Linked DNA regions of Homo sapiens: regions 1, 2, 3 and 5 are each linked to region 4. Evidence: fine-mapped expression QTL. A gene starts in region 4. Each other region holds a variant in brackets. All regions are shown on one strand. Distances are between the middles of the regions.

Region 1 (5,106 bases), 73 kb before region 4:
ATGCTTCCTCCATCCCTTCTAGAGCCAGGTGTTCCGTGTCTCAGGGTAGTGACGGCCTTTTAACATATTGAACATGTCCTGAATTATCTCAACACTCACATTAGTTACCCCAAGCTCCAGATTAATCTTTTCCCAGGATGGTTATTGACAATCTACTCTCAGTCTTTGCCTCCTGTCTCTTGATTTGTTTTGGATTTACAAGGAGACTCTGTTTTCAGCCCTGAGGTTGCAAATGAACTCATTCCTCTCTTTGCCTGAATCTTGGCCCCTTGTTACTTACTGAGTGAAAATGGCCCTAGCTTTGTTTTCAACTGGCTTGGAGGACAGCAGGGAATAAGACATGACAAAATGTCAAGAGGCCTGTCAGGAGAAGGGAGACCCTCAGATATGGGCCCCTCTATCCTGTGTCAGTCCCTATTATACCTGCATGAAGATGTTTTAGAATTCTGGGAGAAAAGGAAGAAGGTTGCCAATTGCCTTAGGATTTTTGGCATAATTCTTTTCATCTTAAAACAATGTTTTACATGTGAAGGCTGTTGTTTGAAGACTTGTCTGAAGCTGGTTTTCTTCATTAGAAATATAAACAGTCATTGAATTACAACAGGAGCACACTGTAATTTAAGGTAGAATTGCAGGAGGGCTGGTCCATGGAACAGGGGTTTTAACCCTGGATGGGTTAAAAAAGAGGCTGCACATACCCCTCCTCTGCTATAAAACGGGAGAGATTTTATTATTATTATTGTTATTTTGAGACAGAGTCTCACTCTGTCACCCAGGCTGGAGTGCGGAGTGCAGAGTGCAATGGTGCGATCCCGGCTCACTGCAACCTCTGCCTCCCGGGTTCAAGCGATTCTCCTGCCTCAGCCTTCCGAGTAGCTGGGATTACAGGCGCCTGCCACCATGCCGGCTAATTTTTGTATGTTTAGTAGAAACAGGGTTTCACCATGTCGGCCAGGCTGGCCTTGAACTCCTGACCTCAGGTGATCTGCCTGCCTCAGCCTCCCAAAGTGCTGGGATTACAGGCACCCACCACCATGCCGGCTAATTTTTGTATTTTTAGTAGAAACAGGGTTTCGCCATGTTGGCCAGGCTGGTCTTGAACTCCTGACTTCAGGTGATCCGCCCGCCTCAGCCTCCCAAAGTGCTGGGATTACAGGTGTGAGCTACCGGGCCCGGCCTAAAACAGTAGAGTTATTATGTAATGTCAATCATTGTCTTTCTTAGCATCCCTTAGCTATAGCCACTCACGCTTCCTAATCTGAGTGTATTCCTCCCTCCCTACCTCTTGGCTAGAAACAGCAGTGGAATGGCAAGCTCAGGCCCATTGGGTGGTGGAGAAGAAACTGCAATGATGAGCTTGGGATAGACCAGCAACTCCAGATACCCACCAAATTTCAGCCTCCTCTCCCTCTTCCCAACAATTCCTACACGGTGTTCAATCTGGAGGGTGGATTTCCTGGTTTTTACATTCAGAGCTAGTGTTCATTTTAGAACCAGGATCTGTTTATCTGGGCTTTGCACCTACTCTTTCTTACCAACCTCCTCCAGCAAGGGCTGAAACGGGCTTCATTCTTTAGCCCTGAGCTAGGTCCCATTGTGAGTGGATGATCCCTGTGCCCAGAAAGCCCAGTTGCTATTGTCATCCTGAGCACGTGCCACCAGTGCCTATGTTGGGCACACGGACAGGACAGCTGAGCTGCCAGCTACCAGAATCACATGAACTTCTTCCTGTCAGCCTTTGTCGTCCTCTTTCTACAGAGCCCCCAAAACTAAAAGCCTGAGCTTGCTCTGTAGCTAATCCACCTGAACCATGAGAAATCATATCTTCGTGCATGAACTTTCAGATACATTTAGAGCCAAGCTTTCTGTAATACCCTGGGCTACCATACCTGAGGAATATGGCCACATGCACAGGTGCTGGGACAGACATAACTGGATTCGAGTCCTGAGTCTGCACAGGCAGTGTCCTCAGGCAAGTCACTTCCTTTTCTGAGCCCTCAATTCCTCAACTGCAAATGACATAACGAGACCCACGTTCACAGTGAAGCAATGCATCTGACACACTCAGACTAGTGCCTGGTACACAGTAAGCGGCAATACAAAGTACTCATTATATTACCATGCATGATTCGGGAAGGTAAACCTTCTGTTTAATCCTGTGATACCTGGCTGCAATTTAAAACATAGTTTTAAACATTGAAATAAGCAGAGTTGCATTGTGAGCAGAGTACAACATTCATATAAATCTTTCAGATAAAACAGGTAACTTCCCAAAACTTTCTTTCTGCTGTGCGTTGCTTTGGGCTCCCCCTCTGACAGCC[T/C]GAGGGGAGAAGCTTTTTTCTCTGCTCTTCAAGGTATTTCAAAGACTTCGGTAATAAACAATAAAGCTTAAGTCAGAAAGGGAAGAATACAGGAAATACATTTGCAGAGAGAAGATCAATGTGTTAGGTACGGATGGTTAAGAAGGAGGTTTAGATTATTTTTGGCTCTTTTTACACAGACATTTACCCCTATTTCCTTGGTCATCTCTGTCCAGCCCCTCCTACCAAACAAATGCTCCTTTCAGGGCTGTAGGGAAGATATTGTGGGAATTGTTATCTGGAGGGAAGCTGGTTTGGAAGCTTTGAGAGTAGGAATAAGTTTCTGAAATTCTTTGGACCTCAGTTTTCTCATCTGGCAAACGGGATTTCTAATACTTACCTCACAGCATTGTGGGATTAGATATACGTCTCTAAACTACCACCCACGTTTCCCAGCCCTACCCAGAATCAGAGCTGTTACCAGCCTGGCCACAGTCACCTCCACCATGACCTGGGCTCCTGCAACATCCTCCCAGTCGGCGTCCCTATTTCTGTTCTTTCTCACCCTGCCTCCAATAACCAGAGTCCAGCCAGCACATTTTTGAGGAACTGCACTAGCTTCGTACCTTTTATCTCTTGCAGCCCTCTTTTGGCTTTGCATTATGCTTGGAATAAAATCCAGGCTCCTTACCAGCATTCGCCCAGGCTGCCTCTCCTCCTCATGCTCCAACCTTCTCCCCAGGACCACACTTCACTTCTTTATGTTCCTGAGCACATTCCTGTCCTAGAAACTCAGCCTGCCAGCCCCTCTCCCAGTTGCCCTTTGTTCTGGCCACCTTGAGGCCGATCCATTCACATCCTTCGAGTCCCAGATGAAATGCCACTTTCTGTGTAAGACAGAAGGCAATGGAACCCCAGCGAGAGACGGTGAGCCCTGAACTAGAGCTTCTAGCTGATTTCCCTCCTCCTGGCCTCACTCTTTTCAAACCCAGCCTCCTCATGGCTCAGAGAAAGAGAGCTGAAGCATGAACGCATCACTCTTCTTCTTAAATCTCCTAATTCCTCCCCGCCATTTGGAGGATAATGTTCAAGCTCGTGAATTTGGCCCGTAAGACCCGCCACAACGCTTCTGCAGCTCCAGCTCCCTTGTGACCATCTGGCCACAGCCCAGTCTGTTTTGCTTTCATGCTACCATTTCTCAGTTCGGTATCTTTTGTTCATGTTGCCCTGTGTACCTGCTGTGCCCCCCTGGCACCTCCTCCAGGAAGCCAAGCCACCCGGTTTGCCTCAGATGCCCCTCCTGGTATCCCCATCAATCTCTGGGCCTAACCTGAAGCTACCTCTCTGCTTAGTGTCATTTCTTGATGTCTTTATGACCCTAGGGTCTCACTAGACTCCTGCTTCTCAGCATCTCTGCACTGCCCAAGGTGCACAGTGCACCCCTGGAGTGTTACTCAATGTTTGCTGAATGAGTGAATAAATAAATGAACCTGTGATTCAATAACAATCTATTTCTTGGTGCATTTGCTTCTTTGATTCATTTTGGGCATTATGAACTCTCTTCTGCTTCGCTAATATAACCTAATGTACATACTCATCTGACTATATTTTGGTCAGCTAATCGATTCTGTTTGCTACTCCCTTGTCTTTTATGTGGTTCTATGCAGCTGTGTGAAATGATACCCATAGCTGTCATTTATTCAGCACTTACTCTGTGCCTGACACTGTTTAAAGGCTTCTTTCCATGTGTTAAGTCTTGTAATTTTTTAAAGAACCTTCTCAAGGAAGTATTATTATTATCATCATTCCCTGTTGTAGATGATAAATCATAGGCAGAGGGCATAATTTCCCCCATCATGCATAACTGGTACAAGGCAATACCAGTCTCGGGGCCTATGCACTGCTGCTCTAGGGCCTGGCACTAATCACTGGATGGCATTTTCCTTCTTCTGCCAGAACCAACCTCTTCTCTCGGTGAGGCAGCCCGGAACATCACTTGTCCTCATTTTGGTGTTCATAGGACCAGTCCGAGGCACATTTTGTGTTTTCCATGTTCACATTTGTCCTTTCAACATCCTTGTTTTTCCTTTTTCTTACCTGATGCTGTCATATGACTCCTTTATGCTTAGGGTAGTGGACCAGAATAATCTGGAAGGCCTCTTAAAGCACAGACCATGCATCGCACTCCAGACTCTCTGATTCAGGACGTCTGTAATGGGGCCCAAGGTCGGGGGCTTCTCACAAGTTCCCAGGTGGTGCTGCTGCTGCTGGTTCGGGGGCTGTGCACTGAGACCTATGGTCCAAGGCCACTTGCAGCTCTGCCCTACCCCACCTCCCCAGCACATGGCCTTCCATGTTCTTTTCTGATTTTCGCACTCCCAGTCTCCAGTTTTACTTGTTCTAGTGCTTATGGCCCCAGGGATTTGCTCTGGCCCCTGAACACTTGATATATGTAAAAGTGTTGTGTATAGTTAGGTATTTTGTTACCCCAACTAAGTAGCTGATTTGCTTCTGTCTGGAAGGGTGGGTGGAGGGCATCCTGGGTGGAAGGAAGAGGTAGGCGAATGGGTGATACTCAAGCTCTCACCTGCATGCATCACACCATGTTGGTAAATCTTTCCCACCTCTGTGCAGGTCTGGCCTTGGCAGGGATCCATGGAAGTAACCGACAACCCTCCTTTTCACCCACAGTTCTGCAGAGAAGCCCAGCCTTATCTATGCCTCGTTCTTACTGCACACCACTCAGGGAATCACATTAAAGCAAATAATGAGATTTGCATACAGACATTAGACAAAGAATAGACTC
Region 2 (5,106 bases), 130 kb after region 4:
TACCTTCATTTTACAGATGAGATAACTGAGGCATAGAAAGGTGAAGTCATTTGCTTCAGACCCTATAGTTATTTATTATATATATATATATATATATATATATATATATATATTTTTTTTTTTTTTTTTTGTATTATACTTTAAGTTCTAGGGTACATGGGCACAACGTGCAGGTTTGTTACATATGGATACATGCACCATGCTGGTGTGCTGCACCCATTAACTCATCATTTACATTAGCTATATCTCCTAATGCTATCCCTCCCCCCTCCCCCCACCCCACAACAGGCCTCGGTGTATGATGTTCCCCTTCCTGTGTCCAAGTGTTCTCATTGTTCAATTCCCACCTATGAGTGAGTGAGAACATGCGGTGTTTGGTTTTTTGTCCTTGTGATAGCTTGCTGAGAATGATGGTTTCCAGCTTCATCCATGTCTCTACAAAGGACATGAACTCATCATTTTTTATGGCTGCATAGTATTCTATGGTGTATATGTGCCACATTTTCTTAATCCTGGATTAAGAAAATGTGACCCTATAGTTATTAAGTGGTGGAGCTAGAAGTCAAATTCAGATGGTCTGACTTCCAGACCTGCCTAGTTACATAACCACAATCCAAATTCAGATGGTCTGACTTCCGGACCTGCCTAGATACGTAACCACAATCCAACCAGAGGGCAGCAAAATCTCTGCCTTCAAGGGGTTTGCATTCTGGGGAGGGTAACAGACAGCTTAAGGGTGAATAAAGGCAGGAAGCAAATCCTGTCTGTCAAAGAGTGGTGAGTGTTGTGAAGAATGTAAAGGCAGGAGGGGCAGCCTGGGGGCTTTGGCAGAGGAGGCGATAGCTGTTGGTAGGGTGGCCAATGAAGGCCCCTCTGAGGAGGTGAGTTTGGGGCAGATGAAAAGGAGCTGTCTGTGTAAAGAGCCAGGGGAGAATGTTCCAGCCAGGAGAAGGGGTTGAGGACATGTTTGAGAATTGCTCCTGGGCTGGAGCCTGGGTGTGAGGAGGAACATGCAGGAGATGATGCTTAGAGACCTCAGGCTCTATTCTGAGCATACTGGGAGCTACTGGAGGGTCTTCAGGAGAGGGAAGCTGTGATCTGATTTATATGTTCAAAAGGTCAGGCTGGCTGCTTTTTAGAGAGACCAATGACAATATTTCTGCTAGTCCAAGTAAGAAACGATGGCAAAGGGGGCTGTTGCAGTGAAAGCAATGCAAAATTGGGTAGATCTTGAGTGTGCTGTAAAGGTCCAGTTACAACAGCATTTGTTGCAGAGTTGGATATGGAGGGAGTTAGAGAAAGCAAAATCACTGGCGATTGCAAGGGTTTTGGCCTGAGCAACTGGTTGGATGGTGACACCATTTATTAAGATGGAGAATACCAGAGGAAGAGAAGGTATGTATGTGTGTGTGAGTGTGTGTGTGTGTGTGCACATGTGATCAATGGATGAGCCTGGAATCAACAGTTCTGGTATGAAAGTGTTAAGTTTGAGACATCTGTTAGACTTCCAACAGAGATGTCACAGAGGTGACTGGGTCTATGAGTTTGGAGTTCAAGGGAATGGTGAGGCTGGAAACATCAGCCTGTAGATGGTATTAAAGTGCCCAACTAGATGAGTGCTCACAGAGAGAGTGTGGAGACAGGGCGTGCTGCTGAGGTCCCAATGTCTGTGTCCCCTCAACATTCCCATGTTGAAATCCTCACCCCCCAGAGGATGGAGTTTGGAGGTGTGGTCTTTAGGAGGTGATTAGGTCATGGCAGAGAGGCCTCATGAAGGCATCATGATTGCTGCCCTTATGAAGGAGCCTCGAGAGAGAGAGAGTCCTTGCTGCTTGAACCAGGACGTGGGATCTCACTGGACATGGAATCTGTTGGCACCTTAATCATGGACCTCTAGCCTTCAGAACTAGGAGAAATCAGTTTCTGTTGTTGAAGACACACAGGTTATGGCATTTGGTTAGAGCAGCCAAAACTGACCAAGACCTGGAGATCTGGGAAAAAAGGGAGAAGAGACCAGAAAATGAGGCTGAGGGGAGGCAGGAGCTGGGAGCGGGGGAAAGTGCTATCACAGAGGCAAGTTGACGAGGGGTGCAAGAGAGTGAGGAGTCGGGGCCCATGCTGCTGCATTCCCCGGCGTCTCTGGCATCCTGACCCACACCCCAGGCTGACGTGGATGCATATCGCTCAT[T/C]GCCTGCTCACACATGTCAGGCATTTGCTTGTTGTTGAAGTCATCGTCTGTAACTAAAACGTAGCCTCCAAAAGGCAAGGACTTTTGCCTCCCTTGTTTATTGACAGATAGATGTATCCTTGGCACCCAGGACCAGCCCGGCACATCAGAGCTGTGTAACACAGCATCTGATCGAATGCTTTTGTTGCCTGAGTGCAGGGTGGAGGACGAGAGACCTGAGATCAACCTTGGCTTTGGCAGGGCAGAAGTCATCATATCCATGGCGAGATGTGATTCCCTCTGGCTGATGGAGATCAAATCCTCACTGGATTCTGTTCAGGAGACAAGGGAAGATGAGGAAGTACAGACAGAGGAAACAGACAACTTTCTCAGGGAGGTTTATGGGTCAGAGAGGAGAGGGACTGCAGTCAGGGTCAGGGAGGCCTTGGCTGTTGCCTCTTTATCTCCAGATGAGAGGAAATAAAGACATTTGTGTGCAGAGTGTGCATGCCCACAGGAACTCTCCAGTAAGGGGAGCCGTTGATGATGAGGGTACAAAGGAATGAGAGCTGATGTCCTGTGCCTGGGGGAAGGTGTGGAGGACTATGCAATCCTGTGCACAGGTAAGGGGCTGTCTGCAGGTAGACCAGCTTCACTCAGCAGAAATAAGAGGAGAGGTTAGAGCAGGAACATGCAGGGTAGATCTGGGGAGGATAAGGTTGAGTGTTGCAGTTTCCATCTGATTGTTTCTGGCTCTGCAGTAATGTAAGAAGTGAGGTCCTCACCGAGGAGGGTCAGAGACAGCAGAAGGTGGAGGAAAGGAGAGCAGGTGCACCAGGAAAACGGACTGGGATCATTGGGTCGTGTCAAGTCCACTTCATATTTGAGGTTACAATTTTTTTTTTTTTGAGACAAGGTCTTACTCTGTTGCTCAGGCTGGAGTGCAGTGGCACAGTCATGGCTCACTGTAGCCTTAACCTCCCAGACTCAAGCAATTTTCCCACCTCAGCCTCCCAAATAGCTGGGACCACAGGCACACTCCACTATGCCTGGCTAATTGTTTCTCTTTTTTTTGTAGAGAGAGTCTCACTGTGTTGCTCAGCCTGGGCTCAAGTGATCCTCCTTCCTTGGCCTCCTAAAGTGTTAGGACTACAGGTGCGAGCCACCACGCCCCACTGAGGTTATACATTTAAACTTAAGCTAAGTGGCAGGGTTGTGCGTGTTTCTTTAATCCATTTGGCTTCTCTATTAGAGGTGAAGTTAACTGGGGTAGGAATTAACTCAGATGCCATCACCAACCCCTACACTGACTACCTTTGTTAGGGTCATTAGTGCTTTAAGGCCAGGCGGGTCAGAGCATGAAGTCCAAAGACATGGCCTTATAAGAATTGGATTCCAGAAAAGGTGCTGATCCAGCTGTCTCTGACCCACACTTCTGAGGACTGCTCATCCAGGGCTCCCTGGCCCCACCAGCTTCCTCCAGGCCCCTGCTTCTGGACACTGTGGCTTGTCCCTCCACATCCCCCTGCCAGTCCCCTTTGAGCCCCACCAGCCACCTCTGTCCTCACCCTTCCTATCTCTGTCTCGCACAGCGCATGCCTGAATTCAGCCTGTTTGGGTTGCCTGTTCCCACTCTGACTTGCAAATGCAGACCCCTTGGGCTCACATTCTGGAGAAAACATAAACACCTCTCCTCTGTTGGCATGGGGATACCCTCAAATTTGGTGGCTCTCGGCTGCCCCCACCTGCCATAAATCAGATAGGACCGCAGCTACCCAGCTCAGCCCTGGTAAACCCCTTGGGGCTTGGCAGGAATGGCTTTCCCGGATCGAATTTCTTGGCAGAGAATTGGAAGGGATTTAAAATAACTGAGCACACCATACCACCCGTTTCCAGCTCCAAATAGAATTTGGAGTCCATTTCACACAGCGCTGGGGTTCTCTCACCCACAGATGGTGTTACCAAAATTGTGTGTGCTGCTGCTCTGTTTGTCTCTAGGCTTGTCTACCTCGACCTGCACTGCTGGCCTTTCCAAACTCTTCCTGGCCTGCGTGCTCCATGGCCATCTGGGTGTCAGCGTGCCCTCACATGTCTGTCAGCTGCCAGACTCCCTGGATCTCTGTCTATTGATTGATCTGTAAATTTCCCGCACTGTGCATCCATCAGCCGTCCACCCCCTCCACTCCTCCTGCATGCACATATGCCTGCCTGCACCCCGCTCCAGCCTGGAGGAAGCTTTCTCTCCTCTTTTGGCAATTGGCGGTCATGTCTCAGAATCCACAATATGTTGATTCTTTTCAGAATCAACACACCCTCTCCTCCGCACTATCTGACCTGGCTGGACAACAGGCAGAGGCTGTTGACATGAGTTGAGGGTGCTGCTCTATACCACAGTGGGGTATACTGCAGGGGAAAGAGGTGTGGTCTCAGAGTCATGAAACCTACCTTCTACTTGACCATTGGGAAGTCACGAATCTCTGAGTCATTCTCCTCATCTAAGAAATAGGGGTAATATTACCTGTCCCACAGGAGTGGTTTGAGGATTTGATGATGTCTCTGTGAAGCTCAGCTCACAGCACAAAGTAGGGATTTAAAAATGCTCTTTAATCTGTGGTCTATGGTAACTATCAAACAAGTAATGCTAACAACGATCATTTATTGAATAATTATTCTCAGTGTGTTAAGGACTTTATATATTTCATTGTGTTTAATTTTTGTAAGACTTAATGACTTTGATCATCAAAGTATGGTTCCCCAAACAGCAGCCTCAGCATTACCTGGGAATAGTTACAAATGCTGAATCTCAGTCTCCATCACCAAGCGTTTTCCATCAGAATTGGCATTTTAACAAGATTCCCAAGATGTTGAAAGTGACATCCTGCGATTATTTACCCCCTTTTCACAGGTGAGGACACTGAGACCTAAACTGGGTGCATAAT
Region 3 (5,106 bases), 34 kb before region 4:
CTCATTTGACCAACCTGTGGCACAAACCTTATGAGCAGGAGATTTTCCCAGAGCAAGAGGAAGAAATGATAACAGCAGGTGAACTCACCACCAGCATTTGGGTTTCTGCTGCGAGTGTATTCACTGCTCCTGAGTCCACACATCTTCATTAAAACCTCGTCATGCATAGCGAGCACTGCTGAGAGAGCTTGTCATTTTACAATGCTCTTGTGCCTACATTCACCTATGTGAGAGTGACTACCAGGTGTGGGAGTAGGGAAGCCCAGCTCCCCCGTGGGCACAGCTCTGAGGAATGCCTTACCTGAGGTAAGGCTAAAGCGAGCCTCTGGGGTCTCCTGCTTGTCTGGTTTCTCCTCTTCCCTGTCCTGTCCCTCTACCTCCAATGGATCCTTCGGGAGCTCTTTCTTAATAAATCACTTGCATGTGATGAAAATAAAACATAAAACATGGCATGTTACCATATCTCACACTGTTTAATAGCTACTTGTGTGGCAGCAATCAAGAAATGGGGGGGTGGAAGCAGTGGGAGAAGTTAAATCACAGCCCCTCGTTTTCTATAACTGGAAAGTGTCTGCTTTCGTGTGCACATATTATAACTCCTCATTTAGTGTTCTTAAGGATACCGCAAAGGAAATCTCAGATAGGCACAAATTAAGTAATTTTTTTTAGATAATAAAGAAGCTGCCCAAGAAATGATTAATTGACAAAGGAAGACTTCTAAGAAGAGGTAAGTTCTGTGTGGACCGTACAGAAAGCCCCAGAGTCAATGGTTGGGCATCATTTTTTTCCATGGTCCTTTAGAGTAGGCTGGCCAGAGTGCTGAGCAGCTGTGGAGAGATTCCCTTGCAGATCGTAGTGTGGGTCCTGCCTAAGATCCAAGGTAGAGTGGACCCACCTCTGGGGAACTTCCAACTTCAAAATGCCATAAGTTTTTGCTTTTGCTTCTCATTTTTACTGACTGAGCCAGTAAGTAAAACATAACATTCACATACAACCTAATGATGTTTAAATACTTGAATGTCTATTATTTCTCTGATCTTCTCAATGCACAAGTGCATTACTTAGTGAATGATGAAATCGGGTCAGAGACAGAAGGCAACATTCCCCAGCTCACTCCCAAGCTCTTGGATAGTTAAGTGGCGGGGATGTGGGGGAATCTGCTTGTTTTGACTGTCTAACATTTCCTCCAATATCATGATCAATACCTTAATTTAGATGTTCCATGGGTACATCATAATTCTAATGTTCATTCCCATTTCTCTAAAATTATTTCTTGCTCCCAGATGATCCCCACTCCTTAATTTCTTATAACCATTAATGAAATAAAAAATGTGGAATTCAGCCTGGATCCTTCTTCTTCATGATGCTCATGGCTACCCAATCATTAGTCATCATTTCTAGGCTCACTTTTCATTCATAAGCCTTTTTCTTCTTCTTCTTACTAAGCATGTGTTTCCCATTTACATTCCTGCCTGTCATCAGGTTTGTCCCCTCACATCTATCCTCCATAGAGTGCATTTCCACTGAAAACTGTGCAGTGGCTTGCCACATCCTTCAACAGAATGAGGTTGGGGGTATGGGGCTCAGGCCACTCACTGCTTTCCCCTAGGAGAGGCCTTGCAGGAGAAACAAGTCTACATAGCCTGAGGGCTCCCAGACATAAAGTTTGAAAGTCATTGGCTTAGTGAATAAGACTATCTTGCTGTGACCATGGCAAGCTCCTCCAAGACCTGGCCTCGACTTCTTTCCGTCTCATTCCCTGTCACTTACTGTCTTCCAGTTTACACTGCATAGGTAGAAAAAAACACTGAGAAAATATTAAAGATTATTTTTCTATATTTGTTTTATAGATGAGACTATCATGACATGGCATAATTAAATGACATGCTCAAGGAGACACAGCAAACACATGTGTGAGACAGCATGAGCCCAAAGTTCATGCTTTTCCTCACAGCATGGCACCACCCGACACCTCCAAGGAGGAATATTCCTGAGCAAAGTCCAGGATGCACTCTGTTTAGAGAAAATAAAGAATGCCAAATATTTAATTCTGGCCCTTAGAGAATCCAAATAGAAACACTTAAGTAACCTTACATGTACTCAAATAAAAAGTGCAATTAATACAGCTCTGAGAAGGATGGGTTCCTGATGTATAAAACATTGACTTTACAAGGTTGTGAGGATT[A/C]AATACAATAATGTATATGGAAGGCCTCTGCAATCTTGAAAGCAGAGAACAGCACAGGTAACATGGATGAATTCAGCTATCCAGGTGAGGACAGGGAGTGCCGATGAGTACCTGATCCTTTTAAAGAACCCAAAGCTACTCAGTTCTAACACACCTTTGCGTGAGACTCAGAAAGAAGGTTCTTGGTGTGGGTAACATTTCTGAATTCCAAAAAAAAGTCTTCCTATTTTTAAATAGTGACAATTTTTAAAATCACTATGTGGGTCAAACAAAACTTTGGGAATCATGCAGAAGGATTTGGCCATGAGGGTGACAGTTTGCAACCTCTGCCTGGTTAAGGGCTTCAGGGATGTTGGCATTGTCAAGAGAGCTGAGTGGAACCTCGCAGAGCAAACTACCAAAAGAAAGGGAATTTGGAATCAGACTGGGTGTCCTCCCAAGATGCTCTAATTTTAGTGTGTCCAGAAGAAGGGGAATAACGATTGTCTGTAGATAGGAAGCAGACATGATAGGTGAGAATCATCAAGCAGGCAGAAAATTAGAAGAGTCAGAATCAATCTGCTCTTTAGAGTCAAAGGACTCAATTAAGGTGGAAAAAAATAAAGAGAAAACTGAAATCAATGAGTTCCAAATGGTTTGTTTTGAACCCTGGCTCCAAAAGGGAGTCACATAAAATGCTGCTAATATCTTTTCTAGGCACTTTAGTCTGTTCACTCAAAAAAAAAAAAAAGAAAGAAAAGAAAAACAAAACAAGATGCTATCTTCATGCACTTAGTTTTCTAAAGGACTCATGAATTGGATCCTGTCACTCTACTACTTAAAACCTTTTATGATTTCCCATACTATATCCAACAAGATAAAAGCTAAACTCAAAAATGTCAGCAGATAACCAGAAAGTATAAAACATTTTCAAAAGAATGAAGTGGAAAATTAAACGTAAAAAGCACAACAAACCTTTTTTACTTCTAATTCTCATTTACCTAGTCTTCCTCATGCTAACTGATGACAATTCTGTCTGGCTAATTGCTCAGGCCAAAAAACATAGAGTTGATGCTGAATCCTCTCCCTCTGTTTCACCTCATAACCAATCCAGCAGGAAACTCTTGGCTCCACCTTCAAAATATATCCACAACCCAAACACGTCTATCATTTCTAATACACATACCTGGACTCACCCAACATCTTCTCTCACTTAAATTCTTGCAGTATCTTATGCTTCTCCTCTTGCCCCTATATTGGTAAGAATAGGCTATATTATGCTCCAGAAATAAGTCACACCAACTTCTCTGTGACTTAACTACCAGGGTTAGTTCTCACTCACTGTCACATTCGGCATTGGTTGGAAGAGGAGCTCTGCTCACCATAGCCTCCGCTGGACCCAGACTGACAAAGCTGCCCTCGTCACCAATCACACGGTAGAGGCCAAATTGCCCACAAGCCCCTAAACCTTCTACCAGGAAGAGAAACCTACCACTTCTGTTTGCAGTTCTTTGGCCAAGTTAGTCCTATGGCCATGCCTAACTTTAAGGGAGAAAGAAAGTACAACTTGTTCATGTTCCAGGAGAACCAGAAATAATTTGCGGGCAGTACAAATGACTATCACACCTCCCTAGAATCTGTATTAAATCCAATAGACCAAGTAAGTGATCTTTTTAAAGTCGTAAGCCAGATGATGTCACTCTTCTGATCTCCATTCCCCCAGAGTCGAAGCCAGAGCTCCCAAGATTGGTACATGGTGCTGCCTGATATCTGCTGCCCCATTACCTTTCTGGCCCAACATGCCCCACTTTCTACCCCTTCCAATCCCAGTGCTGCTGACCTCCTTCCTATTCCTCAAGCAGGTCAGGCAGGCTCCTATCTTTTAACTTAGCACTGGCTATTCCTTCTGCCTAGAACACTCTTCCCCAAGTATATGCACAGCTATCTCCTTCACAACCTTCAAGGTTTTGCTTAAATGTCATCTTATTTAAAATTGCATCCATACATCCCTTTGTTTGACTAGAGAATCCACAATATCCAAGCTGCATTTATTGAGAAATTAGCTTAATCCCTTAGAACTTCAATATCCTCCCATGTAAGATTAGAATGATAGGGCTCACCCTGCTAGACTATCATAAAGATGGAATAAAAAAGACACACACATGGTGTTATACTTCTAGCTGTCACTAAACATGAGGCTAGTCTCTCTTGCCCATCCCCAAGCATAAAATAGCATAATGGCCACTTAATGGTCTTTCATAGAATCCCATAATTTTGGAGAATTGGAAGAGATATTTAAGACCATCTAGTTTAGTCTTCCCAAAGTATCTCTGTATCTCTACTGATGCTAACCAAAACAAAACAAAGTAAAGCAAAAATAAAACAAAACCAATACAAAACCCCCAAATCCTAGGGCCAGATAAGTTGAGAAAAATGTTTCTCCTATTTATAGTCAGCTGTTGGACACTCAGAAGTCACATTAACATATTAAAACCTCCAAGAATTCTTGGAGTAAAGAAACCTTTCAACTCTGTTTAACCCAGCATCCCCCAAACTTAATTGACCACAGCACCCTCTTCTTTTTTCTTCACATTAATGCGCATTAACACACTGTAGAACTAATGTTCTGTTGAACACAAGTTGAGAAATCCTAAGCTAGTCTAAACCTCACATTTAATCGAAGACTAAATCATAGGCCAGAGAGATTAAGTGTTCAGTCCATTGTGACCCAGAAACGGTATAGGATTGTGTGTTAATCCATTCTCACCCTGCTAATAAAGACATACCCAAGACTGGGTAATTTATAAAGGAAAAAGGTGTGATTGACTCAGTTCTGCAGGCTTAGGGAGACCTCAGGAAACTTACGGTTGTGCCAGAAGGGGAAGCAAATGCATCCTTCTTCACATGGCAGCAGCAAGAAGTGCAGAGTGAAGTGGGGGAGA
Region 4 (5,106 bases):
TTATTGAAGTTGATCTAAGATGAAAATGCTCAGGTTTAAATCCTGATTCCATTCCTTAACTGTTGTGTGGCTGTGGACAAGCTTTTTCTGAGCCTCAATGCCCTCATTTATAAAATGGGGATGATAATATCACCACTTCATAGGTTGTGATTATTTAATGAGAAAAATGCATGCAAAACACTGAGTATCATGTCTAGCACATTGCAAATAAATATCAATAAATATCAACTCCGATGATTAATTTCTTATTATCTGTACACACCTGGGAGCTTAATAAACATTGGTAACTGTATAGATTTATTACAGTTCAGGGTAAGGACATTTACAAATGTTATTGTCCACCTCTCCTGATTGGGACTAAAGACTTACCAGTGGCCCATGATCTTTATCATCGTTCTGGAGAGAAATGAAATGGTGGTGAAAGGAAGCCACCTTCCTTCTGCACTGCACTGTTATCACCTGCCGTCACAGTTGTTCCAAAGCATTTAATTACACATGTCACTATGCTGAGCACCGCACAAAAAGACTCATCTACAGATAAAATTCTTGTCCATTGGGAGCTCACGATATCAAGGACATTTTGATAGATATGTGAATTAGAACTTAATGGCAAGAAGAAAAAAAATACCAGTTAACATAAAACATCTTTAAAATGAGAAGGAGTATAATAAATTATTCCAGTTCTACAATTTTATAGACAAGAAGCCAAGGTTCACAGAGGTGAAAGGACCTGCCTGAGGTCCCTTAGTTGTGCAGAACTATGAGAAGGATCTTGAGGTCCCCAGATCTTGAGGTCCCAGGGCCCCTTCCTCTCAAGGTCACAAGATCCCACATTCCAGGCAGTGTTGTCCCTATTCATACACAACACAAGGTAAACTTGTGGGAGGCCAAGGCTGGAAGGACTGCTTGAGGCAAGGAGTTTGAAACCAGCCTGAGCAACATAGTGAGACTTCATCTCTACTATGTTGTAGAAAATTAAAAAAAAAAAAAAAATAGCTGGGCATAGTGGGTAAGGCAGGAGGGTTCCTTGAGCCCAGGAGTTCAAAGTTGCGGTGAGCTGTGATTGCACCACTGCACTCCAACCTGGGTGACGGGGCAAGAGTCTGTCAAAAACAAAAACAAAAAAGAAAGAAAAAAGAAAAAAGCCAAGGTAAATCGTACGTCTTAGACATGTGCAAAATGGCAGTGATGTTTTCATTTCACCTCTGTACACTAAAATACAAACAGACAATGAGTACTTTTCTTCTATGCAGTTTGAAAATACATGAACATTTTTATGGGGTTACAAGGAAGTATAATAATTAGCGGTGGAGTTCTAGAAGAATATTTTTAAAATGTGTGTCAAGGCATAGTAGGGGTATGAATGTGTCAGAATTAGCTAAGGAAGGTTCTGTGAGAAACTACATTTTCTTTTTCTTTTCTTTTTTTTTTTTTTTTTTCTTGAGACAGGGGCTGGCTCTGTCACCCAGACTGGATTGTAGTGGCGCCATCTTGGCTTACTGTGATCTCCGCCTCCCAGGCTCAAGCAATTCTCCTGCCTCAGCCACCCAAGTGGCTGGAACCACGGGTGCGCACCACCAAACCCAGATATTTTTAAGGAATTTTTTAGTAGAGATAGGGTTTCACCATGTTGCCCAGGCTGGTCTCGAATTCCTGAGCTCAGGCTACTGGCCTTCCTTGGCCTCCCAAAGTTGTGGGATTACAGGCGTGAGCCACAGTGCCCAGCCAGGAGCTACATTTTCTAGATTTTTTGTTCACATCCTCTAACTTGCTTCTCATAAGGGGAAGCCAAAGATTAGAATAAACTTCCAGGCCCTAGAATTAGACCTCTTAAGAAATCATTTATGTCCATTAGATTATTTCTGTTCGGTTTTTATTCTTTCCTATCACCAAGGAGGTTAATGTCTTCAACTGTCTGAGGAACTACACAAAGTTTACACTCAGAAAGCCCCTCCGCATGTCTACCCTGAATCTTTCTCGCTGCAGTTTAAATCACAGATGCTTCTATGATTGCTTTAGTGGATGTGGATTGACCAAGTCATGGGGAATAAACTCCTGCTTTGTTTTCTTTTGAAGAAGGTTCTCCATCTTCAGACTATAGAGCTTCTTCTCAAATACCAGGTACTTTGTACCTTTCCATTGTATCATATACACATGGATGAATTTAGGAAATTGACTTCTAAAAAGTGAATGAAAAAGAGGAGTAACATAGATGTTCTGAAACAGAAGTGACAGGAGGAGAAAATAGAAAGTTATTTACTATTTTCAAAGCAACTAAGTAGAAAGGTTGATGAAAGAGAGAAAAAAAAGCTGTCACTGAATGATATTTCCATTGGAGGGGAAAATAGGTACCAACAAATGAAAATTGCCTCATCTTTACAAGTTTCACTGAGCATGAAAATGTCCCTTTAAAATTTCCCATAAGCCATGGCTGGCTATGGGATTTTTCCAGTGCAAAGGGAATCTGAGTTCAGGAGGCCAGGGAATGCCAGGGGGAAAGGGATTTTCTGATACTCAGAAGACTCAGAGACTGTCAGTTTAAAAAATGAAAGTAATATAGAAGGGGCAAAGTGGCATTTATCATTCTATCTCTCCAGGCTCCTGTCTCTTTAATCAGCTAGCCTGATTTGCCCAGTAAATGATTCCTGAGAGTGTGTGTGCGTGTGTGTGTGTGTGTGTGCCCGCGCGCGTGTGTTGTAGCTCTGTCAATCCTTGGATTAGAACCAATGATTGCAGCTTGTAGGAGGGCTGTCCAGGGCCAGATTGTACAATGTGTCTCAGTGCCAGAGTATGAGTGGAGATAATTACGGAGAAGTCATACTCTCTCACACCCTCGGCTTTCTTGTTGTGTCCTTCAGCAAAACAGTGGATTTAAATCTCCTTGCACAAGCTTGAGAGCAACACAATCTATCAGGAAAGAAAGAAAGAAAAAAACCGAACCTGACAAAAAAGAAGAAAAAGAAGAAGAAAAAAAATCATGAAAACCATCCAGCCAAAAATGCACAATTCTATCTCTTGGGCAATCTTCACGGGGCTGGCTGCTCTGTGTCTCTTCCAAGGTAAGAGCTTGCTATTGATTTGCCTTCGGTAGACCCAGGAATTGTACAGTGTGCTTTATAAGATTTGCAGACTCCCCGAGTCGGCTGTGCTGCGCTGTTTGCAGGTGGAGGAGAGAGCGTTTAGACAGCATGGCTGGGACTTCATTCTCCCGACTAGGCTGTGAGAATATTGATTTGATTCTGGCTGCTACCGGAATGGGGGAATATGTATGTGCATAAGTAAAATGTGTTTGGTGCTCCTGTTAGGACTGTGCTTGTGTGCAAGGCTCCCTGGCTTCATGCACATTCTTGCACACATACACAACGGAGCACACATGTAAGCAGGGGGAAATGACAGATTCGGAGGGCAACAGGGTTGCTAATGTGTTGCTTATGCGACTGGGAAGAAATTACAAGAGGAAACTTTAAATATCGGCCAGCGAACTTGCAAAGCTTTTAAAAGGAGCAAAGGGGAAAATGCAGGCTAGAAAGAATCAGGTGCTTCCTGTGAGGTTCTGGTCAGCGATCCAGCTGCAAGGGATGAGTCAATTTGCAGCAGTGGGGGACAACTGTATTAGTTTTAAATGTGTTCGGGGGTGTGTTTGTGGCTGGGGTCGGAGGTGTGGAAGCGAGGGGAGCCGGGGCTCTGAAATTCTAAAAAGCTTTTCGAAGTTGAAGGGAGAGAGGCAATAAGAGTCGAATGCTAATTTTCTGTTTATTTATCGGCTGAGCCGGGAGCCCTGGGGGCTGCAGTTGAGTGCAAGCTTTGATGTCCCCAGTGCTGTGTTCTGTGCATTTGGAATCGGCCTCCACCTTGAGTCCATTTGCTGCACCGTGCCTCCCCACACCCCATCCCGGCTCTCACGTCTGTTCGTTCCAGCAACAGAATTATCCACTAATCTTCTTGCTCCCACCTGCCCTGTCCTTTGGGGTAACTAGTTTGCCTCTTTTATATTAAACACAGCTAAAACTCGTAAGGATCGAGACAAGCTGAGAAACTTTCCCAGGGTGGCCCAGCAGGGCTCCGGGAGGAGGAGCCCTCTCTTGGGAGGTGAGGCTCAGTCCTATGCAGTTGTATTCCCAGAGGAAAGTTCCCTCTGACCCGGTGAAAAACGATGGGGAGTCCCACCCCCTCGCCCTCTTCTCCCCCTGCAATATGGAGTTCTCCTGATCTGGACTGAGTCCTGAGCTGTAGTCCTGCTGGCTCTTCTCCGAGGTTAGGATTTAGGGATTGCTGCTGTCCTCTTGACATAGGTTGCAGTGGCTGCAGTGTGGATCCACGTAAGGTGGGCAGAGAGACCAGGCTGGAAGGATCAAATGTGTACACCCTTGACTGGGGCTCGATGAAGAAGGCAAGGGGTGGGGACAGGAGGGATCTGTGTCGGGTGATAAGGAAGTCCAAGGTGGTGAATCTTGCAGGGATGTCCATGATGTCGTCTGCTGCACCCAACCCCAGGAGGCATGGGCCTCAGGATTCCCTGCTGTCCCCTAGGGGCTTTGGTGGGTGTTTGAGTGAAGGGAATCAACTTGGAGGCATCCTCGATTGACTCCTCTTATATAATATGAAGCAGTATCAGTGTGTGTGTGTGTGCGTGCGTGTGTGTGCACCCCTGCTTGTTCTGGGTGCACAAGAATGAAGTGGGGAAGCTGAGTTCAGGATCGGGCAGTTTCGGAAAAGCAGTTTCTGTGGGGGTTGACAGCAAAAATGAAAACTAAGCAGGCAAGGGGTAGGGTGAGGGGTCAGAGGTAGGGAGAGGGAAGGTCCCAAGCCCTCAGTCATTTCTATCTGTCCCGAGATCCATGTCTCTTCTGCCTGTAACATCAAACTGGAGACAATGACCAAACTTCCACCATCAACAGCCCTGCTGGCTGCATGCCAGGAGCCCCAGGGCCATACTGAATTTACATATAAATTAGCATACGTGATTTTTTTTTTCATCAGAATAAATGCAGGGAAGCATAATATTTGCTCATACTTTGAATCATCTCTGAATAGATGAGTAGCAAAGTGGTGGTGCCAATTTCTCTAAGGTGCCATCTGACTTTGTGGTCTTGTTCCTAACTTGGG
Region 5 (5,106 bases), 640 kb after region 4:
TCCTTCTGTGTGAAAAAGCTAGCAGAGGGAGGGAAAATTTGGGAAGCAGAAAATGTTTCAATCTACATAAAAAAGAGGAAAATAATAACCCAACAATGAGAAGAGCCAAGAGAATATGAGAAGGCAGCCTCTTTTTGAAATAGATTAAAGGCTTTATTGCAAGAACATCGTAGGACAAAGGTGTCTCTGCAGGACTGGGAACTTCAGCAAAGCACATAAAACCTCATTCTCAGACTTAAAGACAGCCCTGGAAGAGGCAGTCCACAAAGCAGTGTGTGCCTAGGCACCTATTCTAAATTCAGGAGAGCTCTGCAGTCATTTCCTTTGGGGGTGAGGCTTATGAGGCTGGTGTAATCAGGGATATAACTAGGAATCTCCTCCAAAGAATGAGTGTAGACCAGGTCAAACAGAACTATTGTGATGCATTTGTCCTCCACAGTATCAGGATCTCAAGCCCCTTGTCCTCTGTGGTTATAGAATAGCCTGGGGCACCACTGTGGGCCTATGGTGATCATGGGTGCCACTTCCTGAGCACTTCCTGTGGTAGGATTGTACTTCCTCCTTTGTGGAGAAGAACATTGACTAGTGCTGGCCAATGAGAGGCAGCTACAAATGACGTGTGTCACCCTGTGGGTGGGCTAAACATTTTACTTCCAGTGCGAGACCCTCCTGGGCACTCTCTTTCCTCTGTCATGACATCCAGTGACTTTCAAGACTGTGACTGCCCCACTGGGGGTTCCTGAGTGAATGGATGAAAAAAGCTCCTCCCTGTCACACCTGTGATGGATGTCTACTGTGAATGAGAAATAGTCACTGAGACTTTCATGTTGTTGACGATTTCGGCATAACCTACTTATCCTGACTGTTACAGAGTCTGATCTTAATGCAAAACCTAGCCAGGAATTGAAGGCTTTTATTCAGTGGCCCTTTATTTTTGAAGGTGAACATTCTACAGGGTAGTTTGGATAAGTGGCAATAAGGGAATGGTGCTCATTCATCCCAGGATCACTTAAGAGCACAAATAAGACCGCCAGCTGATGCCAGGCTGCACAGCAGGACACTAGGTCACTAGGAGAGTCAGGAGGGCATAACTCCTGCTGAGCGTTACGAAGCACAGCAACTTGTGATTTGGGGCCTGTCAACAGCTATGGACTCAGTAAACAGCCCTGAAATGTGAGGTTTCCAGGCAGATATTTCTGATGCTCTCTTTTGTTGCAGCCTGCTTTGCTTTATTTATGCAAAGAGTGTATCCCTGGGGGAAAAATCAAGTCATATCATAAGTGCATCAGAGAAGCTTACTATTTAAAGAAATCTATGGTGAATCCTTTTGTGAAGGAATAATCATCCACCTGATTTGCATTTGCTTTGTGAATTGTGTTTGTGTATCAGGTTTTATGAGTTTGGGGCACATCATAATTCAGAGCATCAAACATAGAGTCCAACAGAGCTGGATTTTCATCTCAGGTCAGCTAAAACACAAAGCTTGCCTTTGTCCTGGGGGACAAAGTGAGGGGCCAACTGAGGATGAATTTTTTGCCTAGAAATCTCTGCAACTTGAGAATGGAGGTAAAAGGTAGATGGTGAGAATAACCCTGGATGGAGTTAGAGTTGATATAAGGGAGGTCAAAGAAGGGAAGGGCTATGAGGAGTAGAAAGGAAAATGTTAGGTGGGCGTTGCTTCGATTTTAGAATAAGCCTTATACTGTAACAAGGAATTTGGGGAAATACACCTAGTCCTCTGTTCAGGCCCCAAATGAAGCAAGGCAAGAGGGGGCACAGTGTGACTAAGCAGGGAATTGGGGTTAGCTCTTGACTCCACTGTATGGGGATCATGACGTGGTGGACTGTTGTCTAAGACAGATGAGAGAACAAACGCTCACTTTACCCCTCGCCACTTATGGGATGCATCTCTTTGGACAAGGTTTGCATTTGTAAAATTCTATTGTCCTGACTTTAATCTTTCTGAGTCTTGGTTTTCCATCCATATGCTTAAGGTCTTTGTCCCTCCTGGCAGGACTTGTGTGAGGATCAAGAGACCATGAATGTCAAGTGCCTAATATAGCTGACCTCAGATAGGACTCAGGAAATTAAAACTATCAATATTGCTGACTATGTATTTACTTTTTTCTAAGATTCTGAATGTTAAA[G/A]CGTTAGTATAGTGTGGAGTCTATGACAGGTTTTTATAGATATTTGTGGAAAGAATGAACCATCTAGTAGCCTAAGAAGTGTGGGGAATGAACACCAGATGTGAGTGCTGAGGGGTTTGGAGCCTCTGTCTGTGAATCTTATACCTTTCCTCCCTGGCATTACAAATGCTCCCCATTTCCCCCTGAAAACATGTCTGTTTCACAGAATCCACATTGCTCACAAAGATTAAAATCATTTTCAATGACTCCATGGTTTTTGTTTTTTTTGTCCTTTCTGTCTTGCCACATCAGGTTATCTGACCGTTTGATTTCAGCAACTCAAAGAGCTCTTCATTTTTTTCCTTTCTTTCCTTTTTTCTTTTCCTTTTCTTTCTTTCCTTGTTTTCTTTTTTTTTTTTCCTGTTGTCAGAGCCCTAGGAGTTTCTTTTCCCTTTTTAATTAAGAGCGAATGAAGGTAACAAAATGTTTTATAACTGGAGAGAATTCACCAGCAGGACACCAAGGCAGAAATCCACATCCTGAAAGAAAGGCAGGCAGACACCAGATCAGCGCTGTGGGGAATGTGTCCTGCACACACTCTGCTTCCCGCTGACTGATGGTCCAGCCCTCCCTCTGCCATCAGCCTGGAAGCTTTACCTCTGGCAGAAGTCTCCCTGTCTTTTGTTAGGAAAAGCTACAATTGGAAACCTGCTTTTCTAAAGCATTTTTAAACACACAGTGTGCTCCCCTGAAATACGCCTGTGCCTGCAAGAGTCCTGTAAGTTAATTCCTGCCACCCAGGGAAGTGTCCTAATTTTCCCTGACTTTTACTGACCTACTCCTCATTGTGTACCTGGCTGTCTTTAAGCTGGGGGACAGTTTGAGATTGGAACAGCAAATTTCATGGGAGAGCCTGTCAGATGGGTATGTATGTGCCGATGTAAAGCCAGATTGAGCCTAAGAGAAAGAGTGTGAGCAGAAGAAAGGGAATAAAATCCTACTGCAGACAGTGATGTGGAAAGGGATGTCGTTTCTGGCACTGACACTGTGCCTGGTCCAGTGCCCTGGCTGTGCCATCCCGGCAGCTCTGAGGCTTTCTGACAGTCCTGAGAATGGAGCACAAGCCCCCAGGGACGTCTTTGGAGCCCTAATTCCGGTGCACTGCTTTCGTGCACTCTGTTTTGCACGCCACACTTGGAAGATGGCATTATAAGACTGCTTCCAAGGAAAGCGTGCTTTTATTAAACTCCTAGACCAAATTGCCTCCCTGTTGACCTCTTTCTTTGTCATGAGACGTGATGGGTTATTACATTTGTGATTAAAAACATCCGTCATCGGTGTGTTTTGCCTTTTCAATTTTGTAGGAAGGTGATCATGATGCTGGTTCTCAGAGGAACAGAAGGATGGAGAAGAGAGACCATATTTTGTGGTTTAAGGAACTTGCCCCTCAGAGAAGGTTACCCTTTTTTTCTGAGTTCACTGCTGAATGTGTGGCTCAAATGGCCGTGGAAGGTCACTGAGCTGACCGAATACACGTTATATCAATTCTGCACAGCATGAGTGAAGAAAATGGACAGACAATTTCTTAAGTCACTAGATTGTAGAGATCAATACAGATAATTTTGGAATTTTTAGAAAATCCAAACACTTATCCTCACCACGGCTGTTCATGTAATACCTCAGCAGCTTCTTGCTTCATATTAGCTTTGATCTTACTCTCTATTTGGAACTAAGTGTTTCAGAAATGATTTCTCCCTCCTATAAAACATACTGAACACAGAACTGAGTTCTTCAAACTCAACTTATGTATGACAAAGCTATAGCCCCAGCTTTTAGCTCACCTTGGTAACTCCGATGGTGGAGAAGACAAGGATAAGGATTTCTTTTCTCTGAGGCTAGACTGGTGAAGTTATAGGATGACAGATACAGTCTAAAGGTCAGTCCCTGGCTGCTCTTCCCAGAGACCCTCTGCCTCATACCTTCCCAGCCTCTAGTCTCCAGTCTGCTCGGACCTCTGCTATACTTCTTTGTGCTAGAAGAGTGATTTGGTCATGTCTCTCCTCTCCTTGAGCAAACCTTAATGAATTTTCCCTCCAATGGCCAGTCCTGTCTTATCTTGGCATTTGAAGCTCTTTATTAAGTGACCATTTCTACTGTCTTTTTTTTTTTCCTCCATTCTCTTCTGCTAGGCTCTAATATGAACTCTTTACGGCAACTGATGCTATCACAGAAGGACCTCTTGTACTTGCTCCAGTCTGGGGACTTGGTCAGGTGTCTTTCTGTCTCCCTGTAAAGCGTTTCCACTCTGCATTTTTGCCTATCACAATTGTACAGTTTCCTGAAGGCACAGCTGTGTGCTATCTCTCTTAAGAATTCCCTGATGGAAGTATCATTTATTGGTGCCAAGTGACTGAGGTTATATTCGCAGCTCTTGGACAGGGCTCCTAGACTCCCCTTAGTCTCAGTTACTTATCTGTGTATAACCACTAAGCACCCTTCATCTTACTCCCATAAAATGAAAGTGACCTGATATTTACATGTCGATCTCGTATGGGCATTATCACAATGTATGCTCTGTGGCATTGAGTTGTTTTCATACATGTTAATTATAAGCACCAGCAAGCATGGAACCATTTCTTATATGATTAATATCCCTTATAACAATTAGGTCTACAATTTGTAAAATTTGTTCCATTAAATATGTGATTGAAGAACTGAATAAAGTCACCTCTAGTGAAAATTCTACTTGATATTGATACTATGATTTGAAAAATAATAAACTGAGAGGGGAACTCCTTGACAACAGTTTACTGCACTGTTTCTAACATTTAACTTGAAGTATAAATAAATGGATTTTAGCAAATCAACCTCTCTTTGAAGTTAACTGAATGCTAACTGTGTTCTGGAATGAAAGGGTTCATGCATCTCTGTTAAGAAATGGAAAACAGATAATGGCAGCGGAGTCAATAAAGTCAGTGCC

Direction of the effects. Alleles are on the strand shown, and positions count from the first base shown. SD is a standard deviation of normalised expression in the study named. Not every link is listed here.
As copies of A replace G in region 5, the expression in fibroblasts of the gene that starts at base 2,786 in region 4 goes up (small effect, 0.17 SD a copy in GTEx).

Evidence for each region. PIP is the estimated chance that this variant, and not a neighbour inherited with it, causes the effect.
Region 1: its variant is the best candidate, but not a certain one, in a credible set for the expression of NTM in lung (TOPMed, PIP 0.86).
Region 2: its variant is the best candidate, but not a certain one, in a credible set for the expression of NTM in testis (GTEx, PIP 0.60).
Region 3: its variant is the best candidate, but not a certain one, in a credible set for the expression of NTM in lung (GTEx, PIP 0.81).
Region 5: its variant is the best candidate, but not a certain one, in a credible set for the expression of NTM in fibroblasts (GTEx, PIP 0.75).

Annotation. Positions count from the first base shown.
Region 1 is chr11:131,294,522-131,299,627 of GRCh38, forward strand. The region is part of intron 1 of LOC124902794 (a long non-coding RNA gene); the gene reads left to right. Among named protein-coding and RNA genes, the nearest start is that of NTM, 74 kb to the right of the region's middle. The variant T/C (reference allele first, on the strand shown) is at 2,322.
Region 2 is chr11:131,500,466-131,505,571 of GRCh38, forward strand. All of the region lies in intron 1 of NTM (neurotrimin), which reads left to right. Among named protein-coding and RNA genes, the nearest start is that of NTM-AS2, 38 kb to the right of the region's middle. The variant T/C (reference allele first, on the strand shown) is at 2,189.
Region 3 is chr11:131,333,341-131,338,446 of GRCh38, forward strand. No RefSeq gene overlaps it. Among named protein-coding and RNA genes, the nearest start is that of NTM, 35 kb to the right of the region's middle. The variant A/C (reference allele first, on the strand shown) is at 2,186.
Region 4 is chr11:131,367,830-131,372,935 of GRCh38, forward strand. It overlaps NTM (neurotrimin), which reads left to right and starts at 2,786. Exons shown (of 9, transcript NM_001352005.2): 1 at 2,786-3,059. The coding sequence starts at 2,978.
Region 5 is chr11:132,006,334-132,011,439 of GRCh38, forward strand. The region is part of intron 2 of NTM (neurotrimin); the gene reads left to right. Among named protein-coding and RNA genes, the nearest start is that of NTM-AS3, 110 kb to the left of the region's middle. The variant G/A (reference allele first, on the strand shown) is at 2,148.